7 linked regions of the Homo sapiens genome follow. The protein of the gene in region 3 purifies or fractionates together with the protein of the main gene of each other region. This does not show direct contact. Each region holds a gene or a part of one and is shown on either strand. Other genes may lie near its edges. The genes, in order: EIF3E, TPM1, DYRK3, GDPD3, ATP5MF, TRMT61A and SORL1.

Region 1 (4,341 bases), on a different chromosome or scaffold from region 3:
TTTTCATGTAATTTGTAAGAGAATCAGGTTTAAAAAATTCTGTCTGCAAGCTACAGTAAAGTGCTAATAAAACTGTGAAGGCAAGGATTCAATTCCCATAGGAAAAATCCCATGATTATACTATCCTTCTAACTCTGGACAACCACTTCAACGGACGGCCCACTAAAATTAGGCAAGCGAAGTATGGATAAGCAAAAACAAATGGCATTAAAGAAAAAGAATTTGTTTTATGCACAATTCCTCAGAAGCAAACACTAAAGCAGTAGGTTTTTAAACATTTGTTTGACTTCCTCTGTGCCCAAAGGGCACTAGTCATTTTTCAAACTGTAATGTGTACAATTTATTTCTAATAGGTTATGTACATTTCACAATTTTTTCCCAATATTTTCTGACAAAACAGGAAATTACAACTAAAATTCACTATAATTTTTCCATCTTTCAACATTTTAAGATGCCATAGGAGTTTACTATAGGAGAAGTCAAATATGTAATTAAATCATACAAACTAAATGGAAAGGATTACCAAATGTAGTGGTCTTTCAACAGAATTTCCAATTTAATGGGTATCTCCTTTGTACTGTTGTTGAAAACCATTTTAGAAATGTTTACTACACTTTTCTCCTTACGTAAAGGTACAAGAGTATTTACTCTTCAATAAGGTAACTGATAATCATATATTGCCTTCAACTTAGTATTTTGAAAAATTATGCCACTCAAGCTAAAACTATCTGAGCCTGTAGCAAAAGTTAGGTTTTTAAATAATTTTATCAAATTGTTTCATTGTTCTTCTGAAAGCAAAAATAAATAAAAATCCAATTAACTGGAATTCTATTAAGTGTAAATTCACAATAAATGGAAATTTCCAGGAATTTTAAAGTAGAAAATCCAAATCAAATCACGGTGTTCTTACTTAATGCTGATACACTGGTGGATGCGACAGAAAGTCTCAAATATGAAGAGACGGGCATTTTCAATGAAATCCTCAAGACAAGCCACCAAGAAGAAGTCATTCACAAGCACCTATATGTACAAATACAACAAAAATTAATGATGCTGACAAGCAATTGCCTGAAACGTGAATCAAATACTTTATCTGCTTTATTTTTCCATTCTACAATCATGAGTTTTATACCACAGCACTTTCTAGAACACTGTGTTCAAATCTTTAATGATTTAAATAAGTAGTAAACGAATACCACAAGATAAAGACCTAAAAACTGCAATGTTTCTGATAACTTTAATAAAGTAGCCTTCTGACAACAAAGTTTGGTACTATCCATTATTCTACATAAATGCTCTGCAGATAATGTTATCTCTTCCAACTATTTAAAATAATTATAAATGGACTACAAGCTCGGAGTATTTCTACAATATTAAGTAGACTTAGAAATTAGAAGGAAAAGAATGCAAAAGGTGGCTACTATTCCACAGATGGTGTAATTAAGAGAGAATATTTTAATTTCAAGAACAGCAACCAAGTACCCTCTAGGTCTTTTAACATCAAAACCTAGACACTTAGCATAATGAATATACGCCAATATTTACCTTAATAATGCAATATATGACTACAAAAAAAAACACCAATTACCATATTGGATTCTAATTTTCTATTCCATCTAATGTTTGAAAATCATCAGGGAGGCCAGGTGCGGTGGCTGACGCCTGTAATCCCAGCACTTTGGGAGGCCGAGGTGGGCAGATCACAAGATCAGGAGATCGAGACCATCCTGGCTAACATGGTGAAACCCTGTCTCTACTAAAAATACAAAAAATTAACCGGGCGTGGTGGTGGGCGCCTATGGTCCCAGCTACTTGGGAGGCTGAGGCAGGAGAATGGTGTGAACCCGGGAGGTGGAGTTTGCAGTGAGCCGGGATCATGCCACTGCACTCCAGCCTCGGCAACAGAGTGAGACTCTGTCTGAAAAAAAATAAAATAAGAAAATCATCAGGGAATGGATATTTGCATGATCATTTTTTTCCTTAGAGAAGTAAGATATTTGTCAACAAATTGCCCATTTTGTGCCAAAATTTTGGTTCCAAGGGTGAAACTGATAACCAGTAACTTGTGAATCTGGTAAATGCAACTACATTTAGCAGTTAGAATTCTTAGTTTAGTTTCTTAAAACTTGTAAACTAATTATTCAAAACAACTATAAGTCTTCCATTTGCTCTAAAGGTACTTTAATTTCTACTAAACAATAAGAGACACCGCCGTTATAAAATTCGTAATTACAATGAATTGCCTGGTTTATCACAAATGTTAAATACAACCATGGGAAATATTCTAAAGATAAGCCCATCTATGAACCAAAATTAAAAACACAGTTGTTATTTGCAATTCAAAGTGACCTTGCCTGTACATATGAAATATTAAAAATATTCATTCGAGATTTAAGACATGAAATTATGGATATGTCTGTAAATTTAAATTACCCCCAATGTTTTAACAAACTCCCTCACAAAAGGGATAAACACATGGCAACAACATTAAAAAAGTCATCACTCTAGCACATTCCCATTTTAAGATTAATAAACACAAGCCATTTAAGCCATTTTAAGGTTAATAAACATGAGCCATTTAGGCCTTTTTAAGATTAATAAGCATATTTCCGTTATAATTACTTCATTACTTTAAGGAAGACACTGCAAGATTAACGTTACAATATCCAAAAATTTAAGAATAGTATTAGTTTATAAATAAAAATTCACACTTACTGATTCACATTCCCTCAGCTTTTTCTGAGCCCCATCAAAGTCAAAGTTAACATATAAACATTCAACAAATTCTGTAATTGGGTCTTTATATGTGTAAGACTCCTGTAAAAATAAGTCAACGGTCAAGGTAAGTCTGATTCAACATTGTTTAGCAGATTGCCCCAGAATATCCCAATCTTCTTGTTTTCTCCTTCTTTACCATTAATTTCTAGCCAAATTACCTAGCATCTTCCCAAAACAATTGTTCCTATCCTGATTCCAGACCACACCTTAAGCTTATTATGTCTTTCAAACCAAGTTCTCTAAAGTCTCATCCTAGAAGCATTCTGAAAGCTTTCAAATTCCTCTACTACCAAAAGTCTCCCTTGGTCAATAAACAGTAATAAACTTCCCCAATCATAAGGGTATTCATTCCCTACTGAATGACAATAACTTCTTTGTATTTAATACACTCTTAAATAAATATTTAAGTTATATTTCTAATCTACGGGTTTTGCTGACAAGCTCACTAAATATCAATCAGCATGGCTGCCTGAAACCTTTTGCCCAACTTGGGGTCTATTGAAACGGTATTGTATATAAAGTTCACCCATGTAGAATTACACAGGTAATGACCCCCACCTCCAGGTTCCAGATTTTCTTCACTCTTTGCAATAAGAGAAACACATACACATAATGTATATATTAAGTGTTCATCTAGCAGACAGTAATAATCATTCCTACCACATCCAACTTGTGTATCTTGGACTTAAGGAAAACAAAAGCCCATTTGAGGGTCTTCTCTTTTCTAAACTTCAAGTATTCCTTCCACCTATTTTTAAAAACGTTTGTACCTTAAGAACTAAGTCTTACCTTAGAAAAAGAGGTTAGACCTAAAGCTTAGGTATTTAAAAAAAAAAATCAATATATATTTTAGTTTTACCTGTTGAATAACTTTAACTAGATCTTTTAGAACCTGCCGACGTTTTCGAACATCCTTGTTTGTTATGACTGCTGTAGTCAAATAGCGAAGAATGTGTGGACACATTGTCTGAATTGCATTAAGATATCTAAGAAAAAATATAAAAGTTATTTAATAACTTACCCAGGGTGAGATAAAGAAAACTCTCGAGCAGGTCATTAGATTGTACTATTTCACTAGCCTAAGACTGCAAACACTTAAGAATGAGTATTATAAGAAAATCTCCTCCAAGGAAATTTAAAAACAGAATCCAGTTTCAGGAATCCAAATGAGGAGAATGCTAGCCACTATTTCTTTAATATGGGGTGAGATGGAAGACTCAATCAAGAGGCTAATTATCCTATTATTATTTTTGAGTAACAGGATTTTGCAAGGTTCATTGACATGCTGTCAGTCTGTTCCAAAAGGCTACTAAGCGATGACTTTCATTCACCCATTAGAAAAAAATGTGTGAAAACCTATGTGCAAAGCACTCATACTAATGAGAAAATCAGCCACTTAAATTAAATAATTCAGGGGATGAAAGACTGGAAGCAACGGGGAAGGAATATTACAATATTACAAGACATTGGTTAAAGTGGTAGCAGTAGGAATTAGGAAGGAATAGATGTCAGGTAAACATTAACAGGGTCTTGGCTAATATTTAGCAAATCTTGCTGTTGTGA
Region 2 (4,307 bases), on a different chromosome or scaffold from region 3:
GAAGTGGAAGGCAGAGGTGCAAGAACATGGAGAGTGATCAAGAAATGGAGGGTGAGTGAGGGTGGTGCGCGCACCATCCCAACACAGCAGCAAGAAAAGGGCAATGCATGAAGGGGTTGGTGCCGCAGCAGGTGGCCAATGCAGGAGGCGTGCGTTTTGTTTTAAGTAAATTGAAACAAAAACAAAGAGAACAAAACCCATTAGAAAATAAAATGAAAAAGACTCAATATGAAAATCCTAACAAATATGGTAGGTATATCAGTAAACCATGTTAAATTGTAAACGAAACCACAGAAGGCTGTCTCCTGGTGAGGGGAGGCAGGGGCTAATGGAACATCTTTCTTTTGCAGAGCTATATTTTAATTACACTGGAGTAGTCAGGCATCTGCAGCTATAAACAATGGGAAAAAAATGCAAGGGCAGTGTTTTGGAAGAACAATTTGTGACTACAGCCTGTAGTCCTTATCTGGTTCCACCTTCAAACCACTGACTTCCTGACCACACTAGACCACTGGGATAGCGATTTCTTAGTGCCATTTAAGCTACTCCTGTGGTCTTCCCACTCAAGCTGCCTATTACTGGTCCAGGAGGCTTGAAAAGCAATGGGCGCCACACTTTATATGGCAAGTCTGCAACTTAGTTTTTGTAATGCTGCAGGTTTCATACTTTGCTGCACTTTGGCAGATCATTTTGCAACCATTTGTCATTCTCTCTTCTCCACTATTTTGGTTATTATCTGCACCAAACACTAGTTCCTTCTCTAATCCCTTCTGTGATGTAGATATTTGTCTTTTTTCTTTCTTGTTCACAGCTAATCCTTCACAAGCTTCAAAGCTCAACATTTAGGATATCTGTGAGATAGAGTGGTTATTACTAAAATAAAACCTAAGTGCCTTAGGGAAGAAATGCTTAAGTATAATTTTTCCCTCCTCCTTCAGGATATAAAGTATTTTGTTAAGATAATATATGACTTAAAATAACCCCTAAATCCTTACTTTGAATTCATACTTGGAAGAAGATGGGTTCTTCTAAAAACAAGACCACAATCACCACATCATTCCCAATTTAATTAGGAAGTAACACTAAAGATATAAAATATACTAGAGTCATTCTCACCAATAAGCACCTCACTCACAGTGAAAAATAAACCTGCCACACTTGTAATGAGCATGAAGTCAAGCTGGATGGCATTTGCCACTATGGCTGGTGGCTAACTAGTCACCTCGTGAGCAGAAGACTTAGGTTCATGAGTTCAAGAGCCACAGAGAAAAACCCCAGAGGACACACAGGAAGAATGTGCAAGTGCAAAGGAGCGTATCAATGTGGATGCCCTTGAATTGGAAAATTGTTTTGCCAGGTTGGTATTCAACCATAAGGATTAAACTAAAAACACTACTTAAGATCTTACCTTCTAAGTCATCAATGCTTTTCTCCAATTTAGTTACTGACCTCTCCGCAAACTCAGCCCGAGTCTCAGCCTGTAATGATTTATTTGAGTTAAAGTTGGGAAGTTTTATGTTTCCTGTAGCTACAAACATAGGGAAAACTAGAGGATGAAAATGAAGCACATCACCTATAAAATGGATCAGAAACTACTTGTCAGTTTCAGTCACCTCTGTGAGAAATGGCAGTTAGCACAGTACATAAACTCCAAGGCGACCTTTGAATATTCCTGACTTGGATCATTGGAACTTTAAAATGAAAAGGCCCTGACCGGTTCCATGAAAACAAACTCATTTAAAATCCAGTTGGCTTCATCCACAACTCTCATATTACCTCCTTCAGCTTGTCGGAAAGGACCTTGATCTCTTCCTCATATCTGTCTTCCTTCTGCGAGTACTGTAATTAGAAAGAGCATTCCAGATGTCAGGCTGCAGCTCAATCTACTCATGGCTTCTCATGCAAAGAACTCGCCAGCTCAGCCAACAGATGTTAAGGATCTCTTAGGAGGTAATGGAACCTCTGATATCAAATGGCACACTGCAATACATTCTCTGCTTTCTTGCCTATTGTTTTACATGGGATAACAACAAGATAACTTATCCACTTGGCACTTGGTTTAAATTAAATTGATGCCTCATATCCCTAACATAAAATAAATTCTCTAGTTAAAAAAAAGAATTTGTTATCTAGTAACTCTCCAAAAATCACCTCACAATATTGCCATTTTACTAAAATGTCTACTGTAAGTGTTGCTTTCTGGCAGGGCCTCTTTTGAGCAGCTCTTAAAAGATGCCTTTCCCCCACACCATCCTCCTGGCCTACCTTCTCAGCCTGAGCCTCCAGTGACTTCAAGTTGTTCGTCACAGTTTTCAATTCTTCTTCAAGCTCGGCACATTTGCTAATGTTTTCGATCAGAGGCAGAAAGGGTGGGAGACAAGCCAAAGGAAGGAGGAGAGAAAAAGGAGAGGGATGGGAAAAAATGAAAACTGAGTCCTAGAGACGAAGGGCTGCCTTAAAGTAGCCAAATCATCAGGTATTAAAATGTTTAGGTTTTCCAGGAACACTGCCCCCCAACCTCGCAACAGCAGAAGGCAGGGTGACCAAATCCAACAACTTTGAAGTGCGATAATTTGGCTCCTTTTTTGGCTGCCCAAAGAGCATTTATGAAGGGAAAACAAAGGAGCATAAAGGACCAAGGGAAAGCACTTAAGGCAAGATATAAATAGCAGAGGGTGAAGTGAAGGTGCAGTCGTTATACCAAACGAACCAGGAGGCATTGGAAGCTGAAAGATGTCTGGGTTGCAGTTAAACCTAAAAACCACACGAGCCATCAGTACCTTATCCTCTGCAGCCATTAATGCTTTCAAGGTCTGATCCATTATTCTTAATTGTTCTTCCAGCTGTCGGACTTGGCTGTTAGTGGACACAGGAAATGCACAAGGCCATTCACAAAATCAGTGTGCAGGTAAGGCATGCAGTGATACACGCATTCATACATAAGACACCCCACACGAGTCCTCCATGTTCCATACTCGTGGCTCATCCACATCAAATGAGCACAAAAGGAGCCCGGAGCTGAAACAGGTAATGTGCAGCTGCCAGAAGGTCATGCTGTTTAGTCACTGCTCTGCAGCACCCCATTCGTGGCCTCCTGGCGCCGGGCCCGCTTACCCTTCTGAGAGCTCAGCCCGCTCCTCTGCACGTTCCAGGTCGCTCTCAATGATGACCAGCTTACGGGCCACCTGCAGCAGGAAGACACAACACACACACCATGGGTCTTGCAAGCTTTGTGTAACAGAAGGGCATGGGGGTAGAGATCAGATCCCATCAGGCCCTAAGGGTTTTGTCTACAAACAATATGATCCTCTTTCTGGTAGACCAGAGAGAAGCAACTCTCTATTAGGAGTGCCAGCAGAGAGGAGATCAGAGGCTTCTGCTTTGACTCAGAATGGTTAGCTGTGATTGGGCAGTCTCAATTGGAAGTCTGACCTAGGTGAACCGGCAGCCAGACCAAAATGTGGAAGGAGGGATAAAATACACATTCACAATCTCAAAAACAGCAGTAGGATGAGACATGTACTAAAAAGGTGGGGGCTGCCAGGAAAACAAAGTAAACCTAAGAACTCCATCAATTTGATGGCTGATCTGTGCATCTACCTCCTTACTGCAGTGGAAGAATACAAGAGACACTAACGTGAGACAAGTTGGTGAGATAACTGACAAAATCAAATTTGTATTTAGTGGAAGAACCAGAGAGAGGAAGGGAGCCTCTGAAGCAGATCAAAACTTGTGAGCATAGTGTAATCTGAAGGTAATAATGGTAATAAAAAGGAGGGGCAATGCTGTTTCAGGATAGCCACGATGTGATCCAATAAGGAAAAAACAGAAACCTTAATAATCAAGTTGCCTCTTATCACAGGAGGCTGTTTTCATGGGGACACGACCAGGAGCAAATTCTGCTGAAAACCTGCGTTGATAATAGTTTTCTACCACCCTTGAGGAGAGAGGCCTCTGTGAATCCACTGAGAAACTGTCTGTGGTCTCTAAGCTGCCCAATCTGGATGTGCCAGGTCACTCTGGGAAGAAATGACTTGCACCATGACAGCATGAGAGCCTCCTTTCACAAGACACAGGGCCCAACTCTCCCTTCCGGCCAAAGATCTTTTGTCCGGGTCTTTGTGGCTGGGGGAGAGGAGTTTTGGTCCTTCTTCGCAGTGCTACTGATTGGCTTCCTGATAAAGCCTGGGATCCCCTAGCAGGATTAAAATTAGAACCGTTTTCTGGACACAAAGGAACTCTGCTTCTCAAAACCACCCATTTCTGCCAACAAAGCAGATGGCCTCACTCGGGAATCAAGACTGTAC
Region 3 (4,341 bases):
ATGTGCATGTGTCTTTATAGCAGCATGATTTATAATCCTTTGGGTATATGCCCAGTAATGGGATGGCTGGGTCAAATGGTATTTCTAGTTCTAGATCCTTGAGGAATTGCCACATTGTCTTCCACAATGGTTGAACTAGTTTACAGTCCCACCAACAGTGTAAAAGCGTTCCTATTTCTCCACATCCTCTCCAGCACCTGTTGCTTCCTGACTTTTTAATGATCGCCATTCTAACTGGTGTGAGATGGTATCTCATTGTGGTTTTGATCTGCATTTCTCTGATGGCCAGTGATGGTGAGCATTTTTTCATGTGTCTGTTGGCTGCATCAATGTCTTCTTTTGAGAAGTGTCTGTTCATATTCCTTGCCCACTTTTTGATGGGGCTGTTTGATTTTTTCTTGTAAATTTGTTTAAGTTCTTTGTAGATTCTGGATATTAGCCCTTTGTCAGATGGGTAGATTGTAAAAATTTTCTCCCATTCTGTAGGTTGCCTGTTCACTCTGATGGTAGTTTACTTTGCTGTACAGAAGCTCTTTAGTTTAATTAGATCCCATTTATCAATTTTGGCTTTTGTTGCCGTTGCATTTGGTGTTTTAGACATGAAGTCCTTGCCTATGCCTATGTCCTGAATGGTATTGCCTAGGTTTTCTTCTAGGGTTTTTATGGTTTTAGGTCTAACATTTAAGTCTTTAATCCATCTTGAATTAATTTTTGCATAAGGTGTAGGGAAGGGATCCAGTTTCAGCTTTCTACATATGGCTAGCCAGTTTTCCCAGCACATTAAATAGGAAATCCTTTCAGGGAGGGGTTCTCTTCTTAACTTTCTTTCCTTTCCTGTAAATAACTCAAATACTGGCCTGAATCAATTACATATCAAGTCTGATGTGTTATAAATAAAACCTTCCTTCCATTGTTCTAAAAAAATCTACAGTGTTCACACATATTAAACTATAATTGTTTTAAAACACTAAATATTTCCCCAAATGCCCATCAATCAAGGAGTAGATAAAGAAATTATGGTATATATATATATACCATAGAATACTATTTAGCCATAAAAAAGAATGAAATAATGGCATTCACAGCAACCTGGATGGAATTGGAGACCATTATTCTAAGTGAAGTAACTCAGAAATGGAAAACCAAACATGGTATGTTCTCATTCATAAGTGGGAGCAAAGCTATGAAGACGATGAAAGGGCTTAAGAATGATACAATGGACTTTGGGGACTTGGGGGATAGGGTGGTAGAGGAGTGAGAGGTAAAAGACTACACACTGGGTCTAGTATACACTGCTCGGGTAATGGGTGCACCAAAATCTCAGAAATCACCACTAAAGAACTTATTCATGTAACCCAAACACCACCTGTTCCCCAAAAACCTATTGAAAAAAAAAACACTAAATATTTCTAGTCTAGGGTTATAATCACAATAACCAAGCAATGTATATGACTGACTCTACCAAGTATTTTCTTAACCATGTAATTATATCCAGAGACATGAATAATGTCATATTTATCATGTTTTATTTCATAAGAATGCTTCACATACCCTGCTAATTTGATGGGCTTCTGGCATTTTAAATAGAATCTTCTACTGTATTAATCAAGTCTTAAAAATCTTGCTGAGAGGCCAGGCACGGTGGCTCACGCCTGTAATCCCAGCACTTTGGGAGGCCAAGGCGGGCGGATCACGAGGTCAAGAGATCGAGACCATCCTGGCTAACACGATGAAACCCTCTCTCTACTAAAAATACAAAAAATTAGCCAGGTGTGGTGGTGGGTGCCTGTAGTCCCAGCTACTCGGGAGGCTGAGGCAGGAGAATGGCATGAACCCAGGAGGCGGAGCTTGCAATGAGCCGAGATAGTGCCACTGCACTCCAGCCTCAGTGACAGAGCGAGACTCTGTCTTAAAAAAAAAAAAAAAAAAAAATCTTGCTGAGAAATTGAAAAGGAATAAAGGAATATCCTTCTCACTCAGATATAAAACCCTACCTTTTCCCCAGCTCCCAAACCCTAAATCCCTGTAACACAAAACTTAACCCAATAAAAGCCTATGGGCAGATGATTTATAGTTTACCATGAGAATGTAGGAGCATCTTGAATAAATGAAGCTAGAAAACTTTGTAAAAAAAAGTAACAGGATCTCGGGATAGAGTCATGGCATAATGAAATGTAAGTGGCACCAAGAGGTCAAAAGGCATTTTTTATTTTTATTTTCTTTTTCAGCAAAATGAGTAAAGACAGCCAGGCGTGGTGGCTCACGCCTGTAAAGCCTGCACTTTGGGAGGCTGAGGTGGGTGGATGACCTGAGGTCAGGGGTTCGGGACCATCCTGGCCAACATGGTGAAACCCCATCTCTACTAAAAATACAAAAATTAGCCAGGCATGGTGGCAGATGCCTGTAATCCCAGCTACTTGGGAGGCTGAGGCAGGGAGAACTGCTTGAACCCGGGAGATGGAGGTTGCAGCAAGCCAAGATTGTGCCACTGCACTCCAGCCTGGGCGAGAGAGCGAGACTCGGTCTCAAAAAAAAAAAAAAAAAAAAAAAAGAAATGAGTAATGAGTAAGACATCTAAAATCTTCTTGCTCCCTCACAAAACTGTCATGCCTAACACCATGCAGTAAGAAATTAATTTTTGATCCTGAAACATACAATGTAAGTAACCTACTGGAAGGTAAATAGCATCGGCTAACTCTGAATCAAAGTAAAAATGACTTGGCTGGGCGCGGTGGCTTGCGCCTGTAATCCCAGCACTTTGGGGAGCTGAGGTGGGTGCATCACAAGGTCAGGAGTTCAAAACCAGCCTGACCAATACAGTGAAACCCCATCTCTACTAAAAATACAAAAATTAGCCAGGCATGTTGGTTGGTGCCTATAATCCCAGCTACTTGGGAGGGTGAAGCAGGAGAATCACTTGAACCCGGGAGGTTGCAGTAAGCCAAGATTGCGCCACTGCACTCCAGCCTAGGTGACAGAGTGAGAGTCCATCTCAAAAAAAAAAAAAAAAAAAATCAGTTAAAATGACTTAAAGTCAGATGTTAACACTTCAACCCAATTGCAAATAGTTTCCTATAGAGGTGAACCAATTGGCAGCAAGTAACCAAGCAATCTGATGGGCAACACAAGATGTATATGGTTCTGAAGTTCTTAGACATTTTGACATATTAAAGAAACAACTTGCAAAGAATGGAAAGAAACCCCACTACACTCCAAAAAGGGGACGAAAAATAGGGTGACCAGCCTTCAAAATATTTTTAGCTCACGTTTTGTATACTACTAGTGTTGAAAGTGGGGAAAGGGCCGGGTGCGGTGGCTCACGCCTGTAATCCCAGCACTTCCAGAGGCCGAGGGAAGTGGACCACTTAAGGTCAGGAGTTAGACCAGCCTGACTAACATGGTGAAACCCTGTCTCTACTAAAAATACAAAACTTAGCTGGGTGTGGTGGCAGTCGCCTGTAATCCCAGCTACTCAGGAAGGCTGAGGCAGGAGAATTGCTTGGACCCGGGAGGTGGAGGTTGCAATGAGCTGACATGACACCACTGCACTCCAGCCTGGAAGACAGAGTAAGACTGCGTCTCAGGAAAAAAAAAAAAAAAAAAAAGGAAAAAGGTTGATTTTAAGCAAAAACTGATGACCACAGGAAGGACTATGAAAAATAGAAGTGATTTTTCCATATAGAAACAATTTCAGGTCTTAAACACAGAAACGTGAAAGAGAAATATTACAAATGAGTCAATTCAATTATTCAGTTTGTTCATCTGATGACATATGCAGGAAATTTTAAAGTCATAGGATAGCCTCTCTTTGTCATGGAACTTGGCCAAACCCTGCTCTGCCTACCACTCTATGCATGCTGAAGGAATGCAAATTAATTTTATCTTAAGTTAAAAAAAAAAAAAAGCTGCCAAGCACGGTGGCTCACGCCTGTAATCCCAGCACTTTGGGAAGCCGAGGCGGGTGGATCACGAGGTCAGGAGTTCAAGACCAGCCTGACCAACATGGTGAAACCCCTGACTACTAAAAATACAAAAATTAGCCAGGCGTGGTGGCACGCGCCTGTAATCCCAGCTACTCAGGAGGCTAAGGCAGGAGAATCACTTCAACCCGGGAGGCAGAGGTTGCAGTGAGCCAAGATCATGCCATTGCACTCCAGCCTGGGTGACAGAGAGAGACTCCACCTCAAAAAAAAAAAAAAAAAAAAAAAAGCTAAGTGTCTGCAGTCCCCAAAATGATTAAGTGCATTAAAAACCAAACTGTTGTAGTTATCATCTATCTATAAAATGGTTCTCTTTAGTATACTAATAAACGAAGACTGCATTTCCACCGTGCAGGGGAAA
Region 4 (3,955 bases), on a different chromosome or scaffold from region 3:
GCCTCTGCATTTTTCTTTTCTTTCCCTTTTCCTTTCCTTTTTCCTGTTTCCCTCCCTCTCCTCCCTCTCCCTGTCTCTGGCTCTCACGCTCTTTCCTCTCTCTCTTTTGAGACAGTCTGGCTATCTCTCCCAGGCTGGAGTGTGGAGTGCAGTGGCGTGATTCTGATTATAGCTCACTGCACCCTCGAAACCCCGTGCTCAGGTGATCCTCCCATCTCAGCCTCCTGAGTGGCTGGGACTACAGGTGTAAACCACTGCGCTTGGCTAATTTTTAAATTTTTTGTAGAGACGAGGGTCTCAGTATGTTGCCCAGGCTGGTCTTAAACTCCTGGGCTCAAGTGATCCTCCCACCTTGGCCTCTCAAAGGGCTGGGATTACAGGTGGGAGCCGTGCCCAGCCTCTGCCTATGGCATTTCTTCCCTGTACCCTTGATGGGAAGCTCCCACCCCTAGTACCATAGTGCCTGGAACATTCTCAAGGATCGTTTACTAATTAAATGATCTGGTGGAAGCCAATGCTCAGGGGAGAGGGGGGTGGGCTGGGCCTGGTTTCTCCCATCTCTCATCTTTCCCCAGCCCCCTCTCATCAGGGATCATGATACATCATTGTTGTCATCATAATGGCTAACATTTATCAAGCCCTTAATAAGTACTAGTTACATATCCATATGTTGGCAATGTCAGGTTAAGAAAATATGTGCGTGGCCAGGCGTGGTGGCTCACACCTGTAATCCCAGCACTTTGGGAGGCTGAGGCAGGTGGATCACTTGAGGCCAGGAGTTCGAGACCAGCCTGGCCAACATGGTGCAACCCCGTCTCTACTAAAAACACAAAAATTAGCCAAGCATGGTGGCAGGCACCTGTAGTCCCAGCTACTGGGGAGGCTGAAGCAGGAGAATCGCTTGAACCCGGGAGGTGGAGGTTGCAGTGAGCCGAGATTGCACCACTGCACTCCAGCCTGGGTGACAGAGTGAGACTCTTGACACACACACACACACACACACACACACACAGAAGAAGAAAATTGTGTGTGTTCGTGTGTGTGTGTGTGTGTATCCAGAGAGTTAAATATACCATTTTCCCATTTTAGGGACGAAGAAACTGAGGTGAGGTCACCTGCCCGAGTGATGCAGCTAGTTGGCAGCAGAGTGGGACCGGAACCCTGCTGCCAGGTCTGTGTGCGGTGGAAGTGGTGGTCACGGCCTCACCTGCACCCCTCGCTCCTCCAAGTGTCGGATCAGACTCTTCCTCATGATCAGCCTGGGGGTGGGGTGGGGACGTGGGAGGTGATGATGAGAGGGGACCTGGGAGAAGGGCAGCAGTAGGTCTCTATGGGGACACGCCACCCAGCCATCTTGCCCACCTCACCATTTCGAAACCACAGCCAATAACTGGTTCAGGCAAGAGCAGGAAAATGGGAAATAGGTCCTGCAGAGAGAAGGAAGTGGGGGTTAGCTCCTAGGGTCTCCCCTGTCCCAGAGGTGGGGTGGGCTGGTAGTGCCCCCGCCAACTAGGGTAGCGCTGCCCTCCCACCCCCCAGAATCCCCCAGAATAACCTTTGTAGTTGCCCCAGTGAACAATTCACCCATTGTTCAGAGAGCCTACTCTGACCACCACGCTTCAAGGGTGTGGCCCTCCAGTCACCATTCACCAGATAAGGAATCTGGGCCTTAGAGAACGAAAGGGACTTGCCAGACCCAAAGCAGAGTGGTGGTGGGGCTGGGCCAGGGCCTCGCTTGGTTCCAAAGCTGGACATCCAGGCTGCAGGCCCTCCTGGTTGGGCCTGGCCAGCTTCTTATTTATCTATTTATCTTATTATTAATTTAAATTAATTTTTTTTTTTTTGAGACAGAGTCTTGCTCTGTCGCCCAGGCTGGAGTGCCGTGGTGCGATCACAGCTCACTGCAAGCTCCGCCTCCTGGGTTCACACCATTCTCCTGCCTCAGCCTCTTGAGTAGCTGGGACTACAGGTGCCCGCCACCACGCCTGCTAATTTTTTGTATTTTTAGTAGAGACAGGGTTTCACCCTGTTAGCCAGGATGGTCTCGATCTCCTGACTTTGTGATCCGCCCGCCTTGGCCTCCCAAAGTGCTGGGATTACAGGCGTGAGCCACCGTGCCCGGCCATTAAAAAATTTTTGTAGAGACATGTCTCACTATGTTGCCCAGGCTGGTCTTGAACTCCTGGACTCAAGCAATCCTCCCGCTTCAGCCTCCCAAAAGTGCCAGGATAATAAGCACGAGCCAGCCAAGTGTGGTGGCTCACACCTGTAATCGCAGCACTTTGAAAGTCTGAGGTGGGAGGAGACCAGCGTGGCCAACATGGCGAAACGCCGTCTCTACTAAAAATACAAAAATTAGCCGGGCGTGGTGGCAGACCCTGTAGTCCCAGCCACTTGGGAGGCTGAGGCAGGAGAATTGCTTGAACCCAGGAGGCGGAGGTTTCAGTGAGCCAAGATCGCACTACTGCACTCCAGCCTGGGCCACAGAGTGAGACTCCTTCTCAAAAACAAAAAACAATGGCCGGGCGCGGTGGTTCACGCCTGTAATCCCAACACTTTGGGAGGCCGAGGCGGGTGGATCACCTGAGGTCCGGAGTTCAAGACCACCCTGACCAACATGGAGAAACCCTGTGTCTACTAAAAATACAAAATTAGCCAGGATGGTGGTGCATGCCTGTAATGCCAGCTACTTGGGAGGCTGAAGCAGGAGAATCGCTTGAATCTGGGAGGCGGAGGTTGCGGTGAGCCAAGATGGCACCATTGCACTCCAGCCTGGGCAAAAAGAGCAAAACTCCGTCTCAAAAACAAACAAACAAACAAAAAACCCACAAAAAACCTCGTGAGCCACTGTGCCCATTGGCCAGCTTCTTGAGACCAGACAGCACTTAGTGGGACGACCCCTAATTATCCCACTCCAGGGGTGACTTTAGAGACCCTTGACAGTGTCCTAGGGCAGGCTCTGGAGTCAGACCCAGGGAAAACCTAAGCTCTGGATTTCCAGCTGTGTGTCCTTGGGCAAATTACAGAACCTCTCTGGGCCTCAGATTCTCTAGGGTACCATGGGAGTCATGATTCTTATACCTCCTGGGGGTGCTGCAAGGTAAAAGTCAACCCAAAATATGTTAAAACACTTTATAAATCTTGTATAAGGCCGGGCGCAGTGGGTCACGCCTGTAATCCCAGCACTTTGGGAGGCCGAGGCAGGCGGATCATGAGGTCAGATTACCATCCTGGCTAATACGGTGAAACCCCATCTCTACTAAAAACACAAAAAAATTAGCCGGGTGTGGTGGCGGGCGCCTGTAGTCCCAGCTACTCGGGAGGCTGAAGCAGGAGAATGGCGTGAACCAGGGAGGCAGAGCTTGCAGTGAGCCGAGATCACGCCACTGCACTGCAGCCTGGGCAACAGGGGAAGACTCCTCAAAAAACACAAAAAAAATCCGGTATAAAAAGGTGGTACACAAATATCATTGATCTCTTTGTAGCAAGGTATTGTGGGGGCTGAGTGGGACTTCCTTCTGGACAACAGAGGGGAGCAGAGAGCTCTGGGACTACCACAGAGAAGCTGTCAGAAAGCAAAGGGAGACCGGGCCCAGGGGCTCAGGTATGTAATCCCAGCACTTTGGGAGACCAAGGTGGGAGGCTCGCTTGAGCTGAGGAGTTCAAGAGCAGCCTGGTCAACATAGTGAGACCTTGTCTCTACAAATAATTTAACAATTAGCCAGGTGCAGTGTTGCACGCCTATACTCCCAGCTACTTAGGAGGCTGAGGCAGGAGGATCTCCTGAGCCCAGGAGGTCGAGGCGCAGTGAGTCATGATCTGGCCACTGCATTCCAGCCCGAGCAAGACTGTCTCAAAAAAAAAAAAAAAATTGTAAAGCAAAGGGAGGGACTAGGCTTAAGTGCCAGCGAAGTATCCAAATTCCTGATCCTTTCCCCAGCTGTTACTTTGTTAA
Region 5 (3,578 bases), on a different chromosome or scaffold from region 3:
GCCCTTCCCCAGTAAACAAGTGCGTCAAGTCTGAGTGAGACACTTGGCACCGTCACACCGCTCTCCTTCCACATCCCCTCTTGTACGTTCTCCAGCGACACATCCCCAGGGTTGGACAGGGCACCCTCATATTGGCTTCAGGGACATAGGAGGGCCAGTCCTGACCCCACGTTGTGTGTGTGACTTTGGTCACGTGGCCCAACCTCTCTGAGTCTATCCCCCCTCCCCTCCTTTAAGGTAAAGACATGAAGTGCTTGTTGTGAAGATTAAATAAGCTAATAATGTCAAGTAAATGTTAGCTTTGCAGTAATCTTTCCTGTCCGCCACGTTACTGCTTTTTTCGAGACCCTTTTCTGGAGTTACTCCCAGCAAGCTGTTACTCAGACGTCCTGTTGGTTAATAAAGCTGTCCCTGCAGCAGTTCTGCTATTGTATAGACTCAGTCTTAAAATAGTGGGCTTGATGTGACATATTTCTTCATAATATTGTGTATGTGCAGCCTCTGTGTAATTGCATTATGCACCTTTATTGCATAGTTGAAGCAGTGGCAGGAAAGGATGCCATATGTGTTACTGGGAGATTATTCAGTGGGTATTTTTTCTCACTCTTCCGTTTCAGTACCAGTGAAGGACAAGAAACTTCTGGAGGTCAAACTGGGGGAGCTGCCAAGCTGGATCTTGATGCGGGACTTCAGTCCTAGTGGCATTTTCGGAGCGTTTCAAAGAGGTCAGAGCCTTGTGGATGTCTGTAAATGAAAGCAAATCTCTGGGTCTTCAGATCTCTTTTTTGCCATGAATTAATTTGGGCAATGAAGGCCTTGTTGTCTGAAAGCAGTAAGTTATGTAGAGGATGACAGGGAGGGATGCTAGGCCTTGGACTTCTGTGGTTGATTGGCCCTTTCAAAGGCTGGCTCTGAGATATTACAGCCAAGAACATGTTTCCTGTTGCTTGGAATCAGTATGTCTGCCTCTGTCTTAGAGAAATCCTAAGACTTCTTTAAGAGGAAAATGAATTGGAACCGTAGTGGGCATTAGTCTATAATATGATGCTCTCCTCCCTGCCAGAACTTCAGGACAAATATTTGAAATGGCCTATCTTGGCCTGGTGTGGTGGCTTATGCCTGTAATCCCGGCACTTCGGGAGGCCAAGGCTGGAGGATTGCTTGAGCCGAGTTTAGACCAGCCTAGGCAATATGGAGAGACCCCATCTCTATAAAAAAAACCACACAAGAAAAATTAGCTGGCTGTGGTGGTGCATGCCTGTAGTCCCAGCTACTCAGGAGGCTATAAGCTCACAGCCAAAGGGGAGAGGTGGAATCCAGGTAGGCCTAGTTCAGGAGCTGGTATGTGCTTATAGTTCAGGCTATGGGGATGAGAGACCTTACTGGCATTTGTGCTTGTCATCTTTATCAGCCAGTGAATGCAGGGCGAGGGGCTTAAACAGCCAGAGCAGGACTAGGTCCCTGAATGTCAGCCAGACTCAACTGTGTGCTCAACTTCACTCAAATGTGAAGCCCAGCAGGGCAGTGAGCGCCTCTTGCGTTTGCAGGTTACTACCGGTACTACAACAAGTACATCAATGTGAAGAAGGGGAGCATCTCGGGGATTACCATGGTGCTGGCATGCTACGTGCTCTTTAGCTACTCCTTTTCCTACAAGCATCTCAGTGAGTGCCTCTGCGGCGTCTTGCCTTTAGTTCCCATGAGAGGGTGGTGGTGACTGATTTCATTAGATACAGCAGCCCACCTTCTTCTGAGGCTGAGGGACCTTTAGTTAAAGTTCCTTATGTTTCCACCTAAAAGAATTGGAGGGACCTATCAGAGTACAGTATGTGGGATATTGTTTGAAATGAGAAAATTGTGACAAAGAGAACACAGGAAAATCAAGATGAAGCCAGGGTAAAGAGAGTACTTAGAAGCATTCTTTAAAATACAGCACACTGTGAAAATTTGGCTCGATTTTCCTAGTAGCCAATGCAGAAAGAGAAATGAGTTGAGTGGGATAATCTGGTACCCCAGAAAAGCATGGCTGTTCCGGCTCTGAGGCTTGAGAGGAGCTTGTCTGGTGGGAGATTGGCGGGAGGTGTCGGTGGCAGCCTCTGACTAGGCTGTTTCTGACAGTGTAGTGTACACCCCCTACCCCCACCTCACTCCCATTCTGTGGCACCAGGGCGGTCCTGCCTCTGAAGGACGGGTTCTCTGGGGCTGTTTGTCTGAGCGTGTGTTCCCTCTGTTCCTTCTGGAAAGAAAGTGGTTGGCCAGGTGGCAGGTTGGCTCCTGAGGTGTCTTTGTGCCCCCCGGGTCTGCTGATTCTGCAGAGACACCGGCAGGCGGGTCATGGGTCATCTCTGAAGGGAATTCTCAGGAAGGCTTTGTGTGATCTCAGCCTGCTTCCTGCCATGCTGTGCCTTCACTGTAACCTTTTAAGATACTTACCATCTTGCCTTCCTGACTTCAGAGCACGAGCGGCTCCGCAAATACCACTGAAGAGGACACACTCTGCACCCCCCCACCCCACGACCTTGGCCCGAGCCCCTCCGTGAGGAACACAATCTCAATCGTTGCTGAATCCTTTCATATCCTAATAGGAATTAACCTCCAAATAAAACATGACTGGTACGTGTGCTGATTGCCTGCCTGTCTGCCGTAGCCATTATCCCATGTTCCAGGGGCTCCTGTGGCACAAGGTGGGGGGAGGTCGTCTTTCCAGGCCGTTGACCGGTGAAGGCCTTTGTGGACTTCCCAGACCACCACTCTGGTCGTGTCCCAGCTCCCTGGAGGGCAGGGTGTCATCCAGACCTTCCCGAAGCAGCAGTGCCGAAGTCCGTCCCTTGCCATGAGTGCTGTGGGCAGGTGCATTTGCAGACATTCTGGCCTTTAGTTGGCTGGCCCTTTATGGTGTAACACAAAGGCTTGCGTACCTGAGAGCGCCAGATCCCACCCCGGCTGTCCTGTGGCTCCAGGCAGGGATGGCCCGCATCCTGTGTTTCTGCATCACCCTGGGGCATCAAGGGCTACAGGGTGAGGTGACCCGGCACTGTCTGGAGAGACCTCAGGCAGCACTCACGCCCAGGCTGCAGGGATTGTGGCCCTCCGGCTGAGGCGGCTTCTCTAACAGGAGGCTTAGTGGGTTGGGGGTGATGGGGAAAAGTGAGGGGCTATGGCGGCCCCTCCCTGCTTCCTCTTCATCAGAGCCTCATTGGGGGTGGGATACTGTGCCCCAGAAATAGGTGCCACCAGACATCTGAGCTGAGGTGGAGGACCTGCCTGCTGGCTCCACAGATCAGACTCCCAGACTTGACCAGCTGCTTGCAGGCCTTCTGGGCAGCTGCACTTCCCTTTGTGAGGCTGACATTTGTTGAAAGGGACAAGAAAGCTACGCCGTGATTGCAGCCAGTGTAAAAGGGTTGGCATGAGACCCTTAATTAATGAGACATGGCTTAAAAAACAAGCTTTAATCCATTTCATAAAAATTGTTCTTGCAATTGAACACAGCCAGGCCCACATGCCCAGCAGGTTGCAGGAGACAGTTTCACATTTTCCAGGCTCAGGACAGGGCAGTCTCCTCCACATGCCACAGG
Region 6 (3,530 bases), on a different chromosome or scaffold from region 3:
CTCTGGCCTCCCTGCCCAGCCCTTCAGTGCTCCCAGCTCCCTGGTGCCCTGGGAGGCGGCCCCCTAGCCTGGGGTCTTGGTGGCGAAGGTCAGGTAGCCGGTGTGGCCCACGGCCTCCTTCATGGGCGTGCCGCTGCGGAAGGGGCTGGTGTCGGAGCCGGCAGGGCCATCTGTGCCTGTGCCCAGGTCGGGCGGTGGCAGGCTGACAGTGCGCACGTTGTAGACCTGTGGCAGCACCTCCAGGGTGCTCAGCTCTGAGAAGCCGCGCGCTGCCAGCGCCTGGCATGTGCGTTGCACCTGCTCGATGCACGGTGAGAAGGAGCAGAAGCGCCCGCCTGTGGGAAACAGGACCCGAGGGTCAGAGGGCAGGGGTGGCAGAGCCTGGCCCGTCTGGCCCTAGCATCCCTGGACTCCCACCCTAGGGTCTGAGGCCAGCCTAAGACAGCCCCAACACAGACTGCAAGCTCTCCAAGAGCTGGGACTGCAGGGCAGAGGGGCCTGGCCCTCAACTGACAGCCCCCCATGGGGCCTGGCGCCGCTGTTCATGTCACCCAGCTTAGCCATGCCAGGCCCTCCCATGTGCCAGGCACCGGGTCAAGCCCGCGCTGCCATTGTCTCACTTGGCCCACAGCGGGCACTGCTCTCCTGCCTTCCACAGGGCTGCTGGAGCTCTGGGCCCGGAGCAGCTCTGACAGCACGGCAGCGTGGGGCGGTGCGGGGGCCGCTGCTGTCACAGGAAATTAGAGGCTGTCGCTGCTCCCGGGAACAGGAGGCGCCTACTCGAAGCAGAGCCCGAGCATGACAGCCCCTCCCTGCCGCCTCCCACCAGGGCAGCCACGGGCTTCACTTGGCCTGGCCTGCAGTGAATGAGAACCCAGCCCGGGTCCCTGTCCTGGCAGGGAGGACCTGGGGAAGCCAGGGCCGGGTAGAGGTATGTGGCCCAGGCAAGTGTCCTCAAACGTCCCTGAGGTTTGGTCTCCTCAGCTGTACCCTAACACGGGGCCGCCAGGAGGTTCGGGGTTAGAGGAGGCACCTGCTGTGTGACAACAGCCTAGACAGGGCACAGAGGCTGAGCATGCCGCATCCTCCCCAGCGGGCTCCCGTGGCCGGCAGGAGATGCCGGGCCCATGAATGAGCCAGGAGCCTTTGGACCCAGAAGGGGGAGCTCGCAGGGAAAGGGACAGGTCCCAGAGGCAGGCGCGGGTTCCCCGAGCCACGCTGGAGGAAGGAGTCACAAAGGCAGCAGGGGGGCCCCAGGGGAGGCTCTGCCGGGTTCAGCCTCCCTGGGACTATGGTCCAGGCCCAGAAGTGTCCCCAGAGCAGGAAGCCTAGGAGGCAGGGTGTGGAGATCCCCACAGCTACCCACCTCAGCAGAGACCAGGACCCAGGAGTCAGGGCTGGGCTGGAGCCAGCAGGGGACCCCCGGCCACAGCCTTGCTGTTCGCACCAGGCCTCGGCTCATCTTTGAGGTGGGGTGGGGCGCCCAGCACCTCCACCCTTCAACCCTCTCAGAATACAACTCTCAGCTGGGAAGAAGGAAGGGGCCCCTGCTGCCTGAGCTGCTCCTTCTCCAGAAAAGGGAAAAACCCTGGGCCTCCCAGCCACCTCCCTGGCTTGAGGCCCGACCTTCCCCAGGGCTGCCCCGCCTCCGCACCCAGCATCTTCCCTAAAAGGGGCCAGCTCCCTGGGCTCCAGAGCCTGGGGGAGGAGAGGTTTTGGGAAACAGCAGGGAGGGGACTCCAGACTCCTCCGGCCGGGCCTGCCCTGCACTTGGGTGGCGCTGCCACCTTCCTCCATCAGGGGGTTGGGAGAGGCCAGAGACCAGGAGCAGGGCCCAGCCAGGGACCATCCTCCCCAGCTCTGCCTCCCCTGGCCAGCCTGACCCACTCCTCACCTCAGGCCAAAGTGGGGCCCTGGCCTGGCCACTGCCATGGTGTGGCTTGGTCTCTGGACCCCTCTGAGATCCCAGGAGCTCAGTCCTGCACCCTTGCCCCACCCCCACCCAGGCTGTACCTCTCCCGGAACCCCGGATGCACCTTCGACCTTGAGGGCGTCCCAGGCGTGGCCCACGGCCTCCCAGGGTGATGGGATGTCCAGGAAGACGGCGTCGGCCACGTGGCTCACGCCAAAGCCACTGCGGCACACGTCCTGGGTGCGCACAGTCACCCAGCGGCCCACACGGTGCTCCTGGAACTCCTCCCGGGCCTTCTCTGCCCGCTGCTGGTGGAACTCCACCGTGTGCAGGTGACCCGTGGGTGCAATGGTGCGGATGATGGCGTGGGACACAGAGCCACTGCCGGTGCCTGGCAGGACAAGAAGGGATGGGCAAGGCATCAGTTGGGACTGCTCGGGACCCACAGCCTCCCAGGAAACAACCCCCACCTCACCCTGGAGACCCACACAGGGCTTGGGAGGACCCCAAGCTACAGGTGGGCGTCATTCCAGGGCTGTATGGTCCTGGCTGCCTAAAGCCCCAGGCTAGCCCTGGGTTGGGCACCCTGTCTAGGGGTGAGCTGGGGTTGACAGGCTGTGTATGCCGTGCTGTCTGTTGTGGGCACAGGCGAGGCCAGTGGCAACCCTGCCCTATCCTGCCTAGCGCAGGTATAGGGAATGAGAGCAGCCCAGCTGCCTGGAGCCTCCGGGGAAATCTGTGCAAGGGGGACAGGGAGGCCATCCCATCACTCAGCCCTGTCTTATTCCATGCATGGCCCATCACTTCCTCAATCCCCGTCAACAGTGGCCCACCCTGCCGGTCCTCATGCCCACCTCTCCCCAGAAGCTCCTTGGTCCCCTTGAGACAGCCCACCCCCACCAAGCCTGCCCAAACCTGCCCCCACCACACAGGGGCTGGGGCTCTGCCCTGGCCTGGTTGGACTCAGGACGCAGGGCCTGGCCACCAGCCACACGGCCCCAGTCCTCCCCAGCGCACCTGCCCCCAGCTTCCCTCCCCAGCTTCCCTCAAGATGGCCCCTCTGCTTGACTTCCTGTCTTATGGAGAGGGTCAAGGCTTGCATCCCTCCTCCCACTCCAGCTTCAGGGGCCATCTACCTGATGCCACTCCCATCCCCAGGCCCCTCCACTGGAGACTCCTGCTAGAGCAGCCACTGCACACTTGCCACCCATGCCTGGAACCCAAATAGCGCTGAGCATCGCAAGTGCTTGGGCCAGACCCATGGAGGTGCCTCCACTCCCTCTATCCCGTCCCACGTCCTGCCACCTCCCACATTCCTTTCAGGGGCCAGCCCCTCTCCCCACCTGTCCAGCCCCTCCCCTGGGTGCCCCCAGCCTGCTGCCTCGCCCCTCTGCAAAGCCTGGCCATGCCCCCTTCCCACTAAGGGGCAAGTCAGACTTGTTAGCCTCCGGGGTGGAGCTCGCTTCCCCTCCAACCTCACTCCCAGCCCCTCTGCCTCCCCCACTGAGCCTGACTCGGCAGCATGCTCCAACTGCAGGGCCTCGGCACGGCTCCTCCTTGGTGCAGAGCTGTCCCTTGGCTCTTCGTAGGTCCCTCCTCATCATTTTCAACTCAAATG
Region 7 (4,341 bases), on a different chromosome or scaffold from region 3:
ACGTTCTTGTTCCAGTAGAGCTTAGATTTTAGTGGAGGAAGCAAAATAATAAATCAGTTCTGTTGGTGGTACATGCTGCAAAGACTCTGAAGCAGTGCAGTGTGATTGCGCTTTTGGAGAGTGGGGCAACATTAGAATAGGCAGACAGAGCAGGCAACTTGAGGTTGATGTCTTAGCTGAGCCCTGGCTGAGAAGAGGATGATCTTTTGTCCACCTCCTGGGGATGCTGATAGAAGTGAACTGGCATCTACTGAATGCTGCCTCGGTGGTTATGTTATTGCTCTTTCTCTCCTTTCTTTAATTGCGTGTGGTCAGCACTTGGCTAGGGGCTAAAAGAATGCAGGTGATGCACAAGCACCCACCTTTTCACAGGCTGTGGGGCGACCACTGCACAACTCAAATACTGTTGGTGCAAAATGGTGTCAGATGAGCCAAGGTGCAGAGCTACTGATGCTTATTGGTCCAGGTGGGTCAGAAGAGTTAGGAAAGTAGGCAGGCCTGGCAGTGAGGTTTGAAGGAGAGTTATGCCTTGATTAGATTAAGCAGTGGGGCAGGTAGGCCCAGGATGGGATGTGGCAAGAGCAGACAGCAGTGAGTCCGCATCAGGCTTGGAGAAGCAAGAGATGACCAGCCTGGCTGACGGGAAGGAGCAAGAATATGAGTCCCACCTGTGGACTCTTCATTGCAAGGCTGTGACATTGAGAATTTGTTTTATGGGAGTGTGGAGTCATCGATTGCCTTGGAACGTGGAGTGACACGGGATGGTGAAATAAGTAAATGCTCATTTGCTTATTTACTTATTTGAGTAATTTACTTATTGATACTGCTTTGTCCAGATCATCATGCCCTGGAAACTGGGGCTTACATGGTTCTAGCTCCTCTTTCAGACCACTTGAAAATTGTCCCATGAGTCAGAGGAAGGAACAGCGCATTGTGACTAGAAGTTGGGGCAGGTTTCGCAGATGGGTCAGGTCAGGGAAATAGGCAGGCATGGAGGGGGCATGTCTGTAGCAGAAGCTGAGTAGCCATCTTTGGCAATGGGGGTCTTTAAGGAGCTCCGATCCATCTCAGCCTCTTTTCCCCCTGTTTTTGTCAGGTAGCTAATCCAGATGGCGACTTCCGACTCACAATCGTCAATTCCTCTGTGCTTGATCGTCCCAGGGCTCTGGTCCTCGTGCCCCAAGAGGGGTAAGTGTTGCCCCAAAAGGAAATCAGTCTTGCGTCCAATGCTACACTAATAGATTCTCATGGAAACACAGACTGCGGGACAAAAACTCTGTTTCTCATGATGGTGGTTGAAATGGTCTATTAACTGAGAAGTTTGAGACCACAGCTTAGTCATCGTGGTCAGGTAACTCCGTTCGCTTTTTGTTAGCCAGTGTCAGAGTCTCTTTAGGCATCCAGATGTCTTGCATCTGTGGGTTGTTTCTCTAGAAAAGTTGATGTTAAAAGAGAGCTTCTGTAGACATAGACAGGCCTGCTTGGATATTGTGAGAACTTTCTCTTGAGTTTCATGCATGGTACAAACATTTAATTCATTCCATCTTTCCCCTGCCTTCCCAGCATGTGTAGGTTTTCTTACGTACAATCAGTGTGCACTTGGGGAAGGCAAAGGTGCTTTTTATTAACTCATTAACTGAAGGAAACATAATTAAGAGGGAAATTCTGGATTTGACATTCTGGCTTTTCCTCTCTCGTAGCATTTATGATAGAGAATTGGCACAATTTTTTTCAAGGAAAATTCTAAGAGTAATGTATGTACTTGGTTGACAATATTTAGAGAGAACAGCACTTTATGAAAAAAATTTGCATTCTTCCTTTTCATTCTTAACCCTTTACCCTCACACTTCCTAGTGGTAATCATTGTTAATAATGTCTTGTGTATCTTTCATGATTGCTTTTACTTATGTACAAGTATTATCTTTAAAACACACACATATACACACACATGCACGCCAAATAGGATTGTAGTGTAGTTACTATTCTGTACCTTTTTAAACAAACTTAATATGTATTGAAAATAGTTCTGTGTGAGCATATATAGATTTTTAGGTTTCACAGTATTCTATTATATGTACCATAATGTGTCACTTCCTCTGCTGATTAACATTTAGTTTAATATACATACATATACATTTCTTTGTATATTATCTTTGCATAATTTGATTTTATCTATAGATAAATTCTAGTAAAGGAATTTCCAGGTGAAGGAATTTAAGTAGTTTCAGGTGTTGTCATTACATATTGTTATAATAATGCTGAAATAACCAGCCGGATCATTCGAAAGGAGTTTCTGACCTTTTCTGGAGTAGTATTTGAGCTCCCATTTCTCTAGTATTGATGAGGTATGTGTTCTGTCCCCATTTTCGCTAGGGTGATGTTCTGGACAGACTGGGGAGACCTGAAGCCTGGGATTTATCGGAGCAATATGGATGGTTCTGCTGCCTATCACCTGGTGTCTGAGGATGTGAAGTGGCCCAATGGCATCTCTGTGGACGACCAGTGGATTTACTGGACGGATGCCTACCTGGAGTGCATAGAGCGGATCACGTTCAGTGGCCAGCAGCGCTCTGTCATTCTGGACAACCTCCCGCACCCCTATGCCATTGCTGTCTTTAAGGTGAGTCCATTTGTTGCTGCCGGACAGTCTGCTAGAGCGGGTGAGGAGCATATGAGATCAGGAGCCTGCATCCCTGGGCTTTGCAGAGAAGCTGTTTAACTTCTTAAAGGTTGCCTTTTTTCCAAATTTGAGATAACTTATTTTCAGCCTATGGAGGGATGCCAGGCAGAGGCGCCAAGGGTCCAGGCTCCCCTGCTGTTCACATTTCAAAAGGTTAAAAGTGAAGGCTCTTCCCATGAACATTCCCAGTTTGCCCCTCAGTGTCAGTAGCCTCATTTCAGGGTGGTGTCTTCATTTTTTGTGCGCTTTGCTCACTTTATTCTCTGATGACTTCCGGTGAGCTCTGCACCACCTATAGTGCCTTGCAGTTCTTTTTCGACTCTGGAGAGCAACATGGCTCTTCCCAACTCTGGGAAACAGATTTCAAACTGAGGGGGTTGGGTTTGTGTCATAAACTTGAATGCTTATCAGATAGTTTCTTTTGGGCAGTTTCTTCTGTGGGGTTATATGGTGAGGTTTGGATAAAATTGCTGTCCTTTGCATTTAAGTAGAATCTTGATCAGGCTAGTCATTCAGCCAATAAATGTTAGTTGTCTCCTGCCTGGGGGAACTCTTACCCTTAGAGAGAACCAGAATAAAGAACGAAAGAGCTGGACTAATGGGCAAAGGTTTTCTTTTTAGAATGAAATCTACTGGGATGACTGGTCACAGCTCAGCATATTCCGAGCTTCCAAATACAGTGGGTCCCAGATGGAGATTCTGGCAAACCAGCTCACGGGGCTCATGGACATGAAGATTTTCTACAAGGGGAAGAACACTGGTAAGCCAGAGTCTCTTCTTTTGTCTCTGTAGAGTTGATCTCAAGAAAGGGGCTGCGTGTGGCCAATCTCTGCTCAGAGTAGGAGCTGGCAGCCTGCATCTTTGTTGTCACGACAACATGCACATTATTTAATTTCTTCCTAATGACATCTTAATTTCTTTTCTAATGATACACAAACAGCTGGAAGACAGCATGCTTTTGCCTGCCTAGAGTGTTGGTGCTTGGTGGGTAATTACACCCTCCTCCTGCCCTTGGCCCCTGACTGATTGGTGGCGCGGCTTCTGTTGCAGCTGGGAGAGTCCTAACATGTGCTTAATCCCTGTTTGGCATGCTTGCAGGAAGAGACTCTGTGCTGGGTGCTCAGATAGTTGTTGCTTCCTGACAGGGCCTCTTGCTTGTTCTCTGGTTGCCCAGATGACCTATTGCTCATTGACCGTACCTACCTCTGCTGGAATGGCACTGTGTAGTTAGGTGTTGTTTTAATTAACTTTTCCCACCATGAAACCCTAAACCCCATGAAGAAAGAGATGGTCTTTTTTATTCCCCGATAGTTTTACCAGTGTCTAGCACTTTGTAGGTGCTCAATTCATATTTGTTGAAAGAATAAGGGATGAAAAGGGAGGGGAAGAATTGCAGTGGGTGCAGACAGTAGCTGTCTTAGAGATCTACTGGGTGAGGCTTCAAGAACTGCTATGAGGCTTTGACCTGCTAGTCCTGGAGTCTGAGACTATTCAGTGGAAAGCCTTTATCATTTCATGACTGCTCTTTGATTTTGCTTATCTCCCAGCCATACTATTGATTCTAGAGGAGAAAGATCAGAGGATTACCAGGAAGAATAGTCCCTTTAAGAATTTCCCTCTTTATCTCAGCAGGATTAAATGGCATCCTGGGTTTGCTGATT

Evidence for each region.
Region 1: the proteins of DYRK3 (region 3) and EIF3E purify together in Homo sapiens (affinity purification with mass spectrometry; one large-scale study listed by BioGRID and IntAct). This does not show direct contact.
Region 2: the proteins of DYRK3 (region 3) and TPM1 purify together in Homo sapiens (affinity purification with mass spectrometry; one large-scale study listed by BioGRID and IntAct). This does not show direct contact.
Region 4: the proteins of DYRK3 (region 3) and GDPD3 purify together in Homo sapiens (affinity purification with mass spectrometry; one large-scale study listed by BioGRID and IntAct). This does not show direct contact.
Region 5: the proteins of DYRK3 (region 3) and ATP5MF purify together in Homo sapiens (affinity purification with mass spectrometry; one large-scale study listed by BioGRID and IntAct). This does not show direct contact.
Region 6: the proteins of DYRK3 (region 3) and TRMT61A purify together in Homo sapiens (affinity purification with mass spectrometry; one large-scale study listed by BioGRID and IntAct). This does not show direct contact.
Region 7: the proteins of DYRK3 (region 3) and SORL1 purify together in Homo sapiens (affinity purification with mass spectrometry; one large-scale study listed by BioGRID and IntAct). This does not show direct contact.

What each region holds. Positions count from the first base shown.
Region 1 is NC_000008.11:108,213,697-108,218,037, forward strand, and holds part of EIF3E (eukaryotic translation initiation factor 3 subunit E), read right to left. Parts: intron 3,765-4,341; coding exon 3,638-3,764; intron 2,818-3,637; coding exon 2,716-2,817; intron 1,021-2,715; coding exon 911-1,020; intron 1-910. UniProt on the Homo sapiens protein: Component of the eukaryotic translation initiation factor 3 (eIF-3) complex, which is required for several steps in the initiation of protein synthesis.
Region 2 is NC_000015.10:63,059,747-63,064,053, reverse strand, and holds part of TPM1 (tropomyosin alpha-1 chain), read right to left. Parts: intron 3,186-4,307; coding exon 3,115-3,185; intron 2,857-3,114; coding exon of another isoform or gene 2,781-2,856; intron 2,342-2,780; coding exon 2,266-2,341; intron 1,840-2,265; coding exon 1,777-1,839; intron 1,479-1,776; coding exon 1,409-1,478; coding exon of another isoform or gene 1,245-1,408; exon of another isoform or gene 1-1,244. UniProt on the Homo sapiens protein: Binds to actin filaments in muscle and non-muscle cells. Plays a central role, in association with the troponin complex, in the calcium dependent regulation of vertebrate striated muscle contraction.
Region 3 is NC_000001.11:206,638,139-206,642,479, reverse strand, and holds part of DYRK3 (dual specificity tyrosine-phosphorylation-regulated kinase 3), read right to left. Parts: intron 1-4,341. UniProt on the Homo sapiens protein: Dual-specificity protein kinase that promotes disassembly of several types of membraneless organelles during mitosis, such as stress granules, nuclear speckles and pericentriolar material.
Region 4 is NC_000016.10:30,107,006-30,110,960, forward strand, and holds part of GDPD3 (lysophospholipase D GDPD3), read right to left. Parts: intron 1,428-3,955; coding exon 1,368-1,427; intron 1,260-1,367; coding exon 1,208-1,259; intron 1-1,207. UniProt on the Homo sapiens protein: Hydrolyzes lysoglycerophospholipids to produce lysophosphatidic acid (LPA) and the corresponding amines. Shows a preference for 1-O-alkyl-sn-glycero-3-phosphocholine (lyso-PAF), lysophosphatidylcholine (lyso-PC) and N-acylethanolamine lysophospholipids.
Region 5 is NC_000007.14:99,457,233-99,460,810, reverse strand, and holds the end of ATP5MF (ATP synthase F(0) complex subunit f, mitochondrial), read left to right. Parts: intron 1-617; coding exon 618-725; intron 726-1,547; coding exon 1,548-1,664; intron 1,665-2,455; coding exon 2,456-2,484; 3' UTR 2,485-2,616; downstream 2,617-3,578. Other genes in the region: ATP5MF-PTCD1 (ATP5J2-PTCD1 fusion protein), read left to right, coding at 618-725. UniProt on the Homo sapiens protein: Subunit f, of the mitochondrial membrane ATP synthase complex (F(1)F(0) ATP synthase or Complex V) that produces ATP from ADP in the presence of a proton gradient across the membrane which is generated by electron transport complexes of the respiratory chain.
Region 6 is NC_000014.9:103,531,355-103,534,884, reverse strand, and holds part of TRMT61A (tRNA (adenine(58)-N(1))-methyltransferase catalytic subunit TRMT61A), read right to left. Parts: intron 2,304-3,530; coding exon 2,037-2,303; intron 336-2,036; coding exon 64-335; 3' UTR 1-63. UniProt on the Homo sapiens protein: Catalytic subunit of tRNA (adenine-N(1)-)-methyltransferase, which catalyzes the formation of N(1)-methyladenine at position 58 (m1A58) in initiator methionyl-tRNA.
Region 7 is NC_000011.10:121,556,218-121,560,558, forward strand, and holds part of SORL1 (sortilin-related receptor preproprotein), read left to right. Parts: intron 1-1,096; coding exon 1,097-1,188; intron 1,189-2,373; coding exon 2,374-2,620; intron 2,621-3,301; coding exon 3,302-3,440; intron 3,441-4,341. UniProt on the Homo sapiens protein: Sorting receptor that directs several proteins to their correct location within the cell. Along with AP-1 complex, involved Golgi apparatus - endosome sorting.